Homo sapiens: one gene and its partner. The protein of the gene in region 2 purifies or fractionates together with the protein of the main gene of each other region. This does not show direct contact. Each region holds a gene or a part of one and is shown on either strand. Other genes may lie near its edges.

Region 1 (3,650 bases), on a different chromosome or scaffold from region 2:
TTAGAGATTTGCCTGGAGGAGGGTAGACACTCAGGTCCCAGGCACACTGGCTCCACAGGAGGGTGTGAGGGGCAGAGACAGCCGGGTGTGGTCCCAGAGCCCCTTCCATCAGTCTTGGGCAGCCCCCAAGTCCTCCCCAGCAAGGGGCTCCTGGCGTTGGGAGGGGGCTTCTGTCTCAGCAGCTGTCTTCCCTCAGGGCTTCCCCGAGGTGGGTGAGGAGGAGCTCGTGAGTGTGCCTGATGCCAAGTTCACTAAGGGTGAATTTCAGGTGAGCATGCCCTGCGGGGTCCCTGAGGCACCTTGGGATGGGAGGAGGAGGAGGACTCCTGCTTGCCGGTCTAGGGGTCCTCAAAGCACGTCCCAATGCAGTCACGTCTGCCACCTCATCATATCAGTGCTTCCCTGTTCCCATTTTATAGATGAGCCCAGCAAGGCATGGGACAGCTTGGCTCTGAGGCCCTGGCAGACGGCCGGCTATGGAGATGTGGGCTGGACCCCTCCCTGCCCGGCCTTGCTGTTGGGCTGCTGTGTGCCTTGGGGAGGTCACTGGCCACCGTCTTGTCTGGGTAATGTTGATAACAACCTCCCAGCACCTTCAACCCAGCTGTGGTTGGTGACCTTGTGTGGGTCCCCAGCCTACTTTGCCCTGCCTGTTCCTCTATTTCAGATTAGGGCACTGGATGGCCAGCCACAAACATTCCAGATTTAGTCATCCATGTATTGTGCACCTGCCACATGCCACAGGCCATCTTCTCAGGCATCCCGAGAGTCGTGGCAACGTCCCTCGGAGTTGGCCCATGGCTGACCCACAGTCAGCAGCACAGTTGGCTCGTGTCTTACTGGTTAACTTCGCCACTTGCCCCTCCCCTGCCCTCGCCCCAGTCCTGAGGCCCTGACCGCCATGCAGCACCTCACACTTGCTAAGCTCTTGCAGCCTTTGCATATGCGGTGCCTTCTCCCTTCCTTCTTCTGGCTGATTCTCTGATTCTTTCCTTTTTCCTTTTCTTTATGTGGTAAAATATGCATAACATAAAATGTACCATTTCAACCATTTTTAAATGTACAGTTCAGTGGTGTTAAGTACATTCACGTTGTTGTGCAACTGTTGCCACAACCCATCTAACTCCTTCATCTTGCAAAACAGAACTCTGCTCTCCTATTCAGTAATGATTCCCCATCCTCCCTCCCAGCAGCCCCTGTTCTACTTTCTGTCTCAATGGATGTGACTACTCTAGGAATCTTCTATGAGTGGAATCGTACAGTATTTGTGTTTTATGACTAGTTTATTTCACTGAGCATAATGTTCTCAAGGTTTACCCACATTGTAATATGTGTCAGAATTTCTTTCCTTTTAGAGGCTGAATAATATCCCATTGTATGGATAGACCACATTTTGTTTCTCCATTCCTCCATCAAGGGACACTATTTGCTTCCACCTTTTGGCTGTCATGAGTAATGCTGCTATGAAATGCATAGTGCACGTAGCTGAGTCCCTGCTTTCAGTTCTTTTGGGCATATACTCAGGAGTGGAATTGCTGGATCCTATCGTAATTCTGTTTACTTTTTTGAGGAACCACCATGCTGTTTGCCGCAGTATATGCACCATTTTACATTCCCACCAGCAACACACAAAGGTTCTGATATTTCCACATCCTCACCAACACTTGATTTCTTTTTTCTGTTTTTTTTAGAGATGGGAGTTCACCGTGTTGGCCAGGCTGGTCTCGAACTCCTGACCTCAGATGATCCACCCGCCTCGGCCTCCCAAAGTGCTGGGAGCCACTGTGCCCAGCCGTTTTTTTTTTTTTTTTTTGGATAATAGCCATCCTGCTGGGTATGAAGTGGTATATTGTGGCTTTGATTTGCATTTCTCTAATGATTAGTGATGTTCAATATCTTTTTATGTGTTTATTGGCCACTTGTATATCTTCTTTGGAGAAATGTCTGTTCAAGTCCTTTGTCCATTTTTGAATTGGATTGTTGTTGAGTTTTGGTTCTTTATATATTCTGGAAACTAATCACTTATAAGAGAGGTGATATGTAAATATGTTCTCTATTCTGTGGGCTGACTTTTTACTCATTGATAGTGTCATTTGATGCACAAAAGTTTTTAATTTTGATGTAGTTTGTCTGTTTTTTCTTTTGTTGCCTGTGCCCTTGGTGCTATATCCAAGAAATCATTGCCAACTCCAATGTCATGAAGCTTCTCCCTTGTGTTTTATCCTAAGACTTTTATAGTTTTTAACTCTTAGGTTTAGGTCTTTGATCCATTTTGAGTTAGTTTTTTTTATATGGTGTGAGGTGAGGGTTATCTAAGTTTATTCTTTTGCATGTGGATATCTGGTTTTTCCAGCACCGTTAGTTCAAGAGTCTGTCTTTCCCCATTGAAGGGTCTTGGCACCCTTGTTGAAAGCCAGTTGACCATATGTATAAGGGTTTTATTTTCCAGCTGAGTTTAGTCTTTGCATCGGTGCCTTGAATGTGATGGTCAGGCCTCTCCTTCTTCACACCAGGCCCCGTGCTGGGAGCTGTGTGTACTCCCTCTGTCCCCTTTCCCAGCTCCCAGGAGGTAGGTGCTTTTACTGCTCCCAGTTTATAGATGAGAAAATGAGGCCTGGGGAGACAAGTTTATTACCCTAGGGCCACATCAGAGAGGTGGGGCTGGGGTATAAGCCAGGCTGTAGACCTCAGAGCCTGTGTTCCAAAGTTACATCATATGACCTGAAGACACCCCTGTACACCCTATCCTCACCCACCCCCAGATAATCTAGACCAGCTTCCTTTGCAATTAGTTCAGCATTTGCTGAGCCCACAGTCTGTTGGGGAGAAAGGATCAATAGAGCGTGAAGAGGCCCAGAGCAGACACTGGTTCTAAGGGCCAAGAGTGCAGCTGAGGGAGCCTGAGAGGACTTCATAGAGGAGGCAGCATTTGAGTGCCTTTGGGGAAGATGAGTGAGTATCCTTGGTGAGGAGGGGAGTGTCTGGAGGGATCAAGTGTGCAAAGGAGGGATTCTGGAAAGGGCAGGAACTATGTAAGGCTGTGATTTGTCAGAAGGGAAGCAGGCAGGACTGAGGGGTGGGGGCCCATATTGTGAAGGCCCTGGAGGTTTGCACTATGTGTTTGACCTTGACCGTGAGGCCAGGAGGGAGGCAGAGGAGGTTGTGATCAGGCTCTCAGTCTGGGGGCCCCAGCAGGCAGTTATATGTGGACTGGGGAGTGGAGGGAGAGGCAGGAGCTGAGTGAGGAGGGGCTGCAGGGTGAGCAGGAGCAGCCCAGTCCTCATTGGTAGGTCTTGAGGGCTCCTGGATGTGGGGTGAGGAGGGCACCTAGGATGACCTCGAGTTTCTGGCTTTGCAGTAGTGACAGCTGTCGATGTGGAATTCAGGGGAGGAACAGCTGCAGCAGAGGCCAGGAGTTGGGTTCCCTGTGAAGAGCTGCAGCCCTCTGTCTGAGGTGGCCCCCAGAGGACGCAGTTCCCTGCACCCTCCTGGGGACCTGCCTAGAGCTTGGGATTGGGGATGTGGACTGGACAGCTCCCTCCTACTCCCCTGGGCACAGCCTGAGCCAGATCTGCCACTAGTTCCTTCCAGACTGTTCCTTTTTCTCCTCCCACTTGGTTGCAACTCCATGCCTGCTGGGGTGCCCAGCA
Region 2 (3,562 bases):
GACCACTAACACAGCTGCATTACATTGTCTACTCAGTGTTGCTGACTATATATAATGTGTATAGTTCAGTGACATTGCCAAAAGATGTCCTGAAGAATCTCAGGTAACTGGCAATAGGTTGGTTTTTCAGTCTGTTTACTTCCAGGAATGGATTCTTTAACAAATTATCCATGTGAGATAGAACTCATTGTGAATGATAAAGATATTTCTAAGGTAAACCTATGGTTAAGAAATAATATTTAACTCCAAATACGAAAGGATGCTTGACTAAGGCATAATTTATGTACACAGTAGCTTTTGTTCCTCAAGCAATGAAGTATACGTGAATTCTGCACCTAGCCGTAATTAGCTTTAAAAAGCCAATTACGGCTGGGTGCAGTGGCTCACACCTGTAATCCCAGCACTTTGAGAAGCTGAAGTGGGAAGATTGCCTGAACCCAGGAATTCAGTACCTATCTGTGCAACATAGTGAGACCCTGTCTCTAAAACAATTTTTTTTAATTAACTGGGCATGGTAGCACATGCCTGTGATTCCAGCTACTTGGAAGGCTGAGGTGGGTGGATCACTTGAGCCCAGGAGGTCAAGGCTGCAGTGAGCTGTGATCACTCCACTGCACTCCAGTCTGGGTGACAGAGTGAGACCGTGTCACCAAAAAAAAAAAAAAAAATTTTTTTTTTTTTAAAGAGAAGCCATATACAGTAAAATTTACCAGTTACCATAGTACTTGTAAACTTTTTGCTTTTTTCATTTAACATTTTGCCAGAGATGGAACTTCTAATCATCTTTAGAACTACCTACAGGAAACACTGAGTATTTTGAATATTTAGTTTTCCATGGTAACTTTTGACCTTGTTTTTGCTCTGTTTCACTTAGGACAAGATGACCTCATCCAGCATCAAGATATGAGGATCTTGGAGCTAACGCCAGAACCAGACCGGCCTCGAATTCTGCCTCCTGACCAACGACCTCCCGAGCCTCCTGAACCACCACCAGTCACTGAGGAAGATCTAGATTATCGGACAGAAAACCAGCATGTACCCACCACCAGTTCTTCATTAACTGACCCTCATGCCGGAGTGAAGGCAGCCCTGTTACAGCTGCTTGCTCAGCATCAGCCCCAGGATGACCCCAAAAGAGAAGGTGGGATTGATTATCAAGCAGGAGACACTTACGTGTCCACTTCAGACTACAAGGACAACTTTGGATCCTCTTCTTTCTCTTCTGCTCCTTATGTTAGCAATGATGGTCTAGGAAGCAGTTCTGCTCCACCACTAGAACGACGTAGTTTCATTGGAAATTCAGATATTCAGTCTTTGGATAACTACAGTACTGCTTCATCTCATTCTGGTGGTCCACCTCAGCCTTCTGCCTTTTCTGAGTCATTTCCCAGTTCAGTAGCTGGATATGGAGACATTTACCTCAATGCTGGTCCCATGTTGTTTAGTGGAGACAAGGACCATAGATTTGAATATAGCCATGGTCCTATTGCAGTCCTGGCAAACAGCAGTGACCCTTCCACGGGGCCAGAGAGTACTCATCCTTTGCCAGCAAAGATGCACAACTATAACTATGGTGGTAACTTACAGGAAAATCCGAGTGGCCCCAGCCTCATGCATGGACAGACCTGGACTTCTCCTGCCCAAGGACCTGGATATTCACAAGGATACAGGGGACATATTAGCACATCAACTGGCAGAGGCAGAGGCAGAGGGTTACCATACTGAGTATCTGTTTTTCCTCAGGCACATCATTTTTATCTGGAAAGACTTTTCTAGCTGCAATTTAAGGCAGCAATCCAAGAGACTTGAATAATAATAATTCAACAACAGCTTTATTTTTATGTGGAGAAGGGTCTTGCATACAATAGTTTAAAAAAGACAAAAAAAACCTTTGCTTAAATTCATGCTGTTCTAAAAACTAGATCGATTGTACATCTTCACAAATTCTAGTTAACAATTTTATTTTGTATTCTTGCAGTTTTAAGTGGATGCTAATTTTAGGGGCATAAGCCTTTTATGGCCCTCTTGCAGATCTTCTGAACTATGCACATTTGTGCTTTTTTTGTAAGTTTGGACCAACTTTTATGTAACAAACAGCCCCTCCCCACCTCCAGTTTTACAACAATCAGAAAGGGCACTGATTTATTTGGTATTTTTCTTTTTACAAAGCTACCTTTAGTCAAAGGTCACTGTCAGTCTTTGCACCTGCTTTCAGTGTTATTGTGAAAGGTGTACTTTGTGCTCATTTCAGAAAATAAAACACAACCTTTCTCTTGATGCAACAGTTTTATAAAAAAAAAAATGGTCAACGTTATTTTTGTTTTGTTTTGCAGATTATCAAAGCCTAGCAAAATGCATTTAAATGAAATAGTGGGTTTTATATGAAAACTATGGGTGGGGTGGGGAGGGAAAGTAAGTGCCTTAACAGGTAAGCTTAAGGTCTGAAAAAAATAGTTAACTTTTACCCCCATTTGTCTTTTAAAGGGAATCAATGCATTAAAAAGGCAAGAAACTCTGAAGTTTCAGGGGCTGCCTGTTCAGTTCCTGTTAGGTCCATTCCCTCTGCTTGTCACACTTTCTCCTTTTCTGCCTGTCTTTGGGCTGTGTTGCCTTTCACTACCACCTTCTCTTGATAGGGGAGTGAGAGCAAAGAAAGGGAGTAGAACTGCAATCAGTACATATTGTTTGAGAAGTTCTACAAAGTTTTGTCATTTAAATGGTTGAAAGTAATAGCTCCAGGAGAATTTTAGAGTACCATTTTCTTTCAGGCTGCCATATTATCCCTGTTTCCATTTGCCATGGATAATTGGAGGGTCATGGTATAGAAGCAAGAGTTAATAACAGAACTTGCCTAAATGTGTTAAAGTTCATGGGGGAGGGGTGGCAAATACCGTATTTTAAGTTATGCAATTGCCCTTTTAAGAAAGTCAATTCTATTCACTTGTTAACTAGAAACATTGCTTAGATTGAATTTATTGAAGCAAAAAGAAAAGGCAATGAGAGAGAACTTTTATCTTCCTTCCTGTCACATTCTGTAAAGTTGATTATGACTTCTGCCAGACTTAGAGCAACAACTTTAGTTCATTTTAACATTTTTTTTTAATGAAGAGCATCAAAGAATGGAGTAGTCCTTATTTAAACTGTAATGGTGTCAAGTCTCACTGTGTGCACACTCTCACACATACACACACAATTATACTAATTCTAGAAAGGAACCAAAGGTAAATAACCAGTGTTTCCATTATCACTAAATGGAAAAATTGACTGGAAGTTAGAGTTGTGCCAATTAATCATTTTGTTCATCAACTGTTCTGGTAACTTATTTTTTTTTATTGGAATCTTAAATTGGAACAACTGTTACAGAATGTATATTGCTCCAGTTCTAAAGCCAGTTAACCCTGTGCCCTCTAACTTATGAACCTTCATTTCAAAACAGTATGTGGGAAGTCCTGTAGTTTGATAAGAGTAAAATTATTTTAAAGAGGATAATTTACCATTTTACTACTATAAAATAAGTTGATATCAGTTGACCATTTTATTTTTTGATGGACTCTTTTTGTTG

Evidence for each region.
Region 1: the proteins of CDK13 (region 2) and PALD1 purify together in Homo sapiens (affinity purification with mass spectrometry; 2 studies listed by BioGRID and IntAct, with this or other methods). This does not show direct contact.

What each region holds. Positions count from the first base shown.
Region 1 is NC_000010.11:70,541,267-70,544,916, forward strand, and holds part of PALD1 (paladin), read left to right. Parts: intron 1-196; coding exon 197-268; intron 269-3,650.
Region 2 is NC_000007.14:40,093,256-40,096,817, forward strand, and holds part of CDK13 (cyclin-dependent kinase 13), read left to right. Parts: intron 1-874; coding exon 875-1,725; 3' UTR 1,726-3,562. UniProt on the Homo sapiens protein: Cyclin-dependent kinase which displays CTD kinase activity and is required for RNA splicing.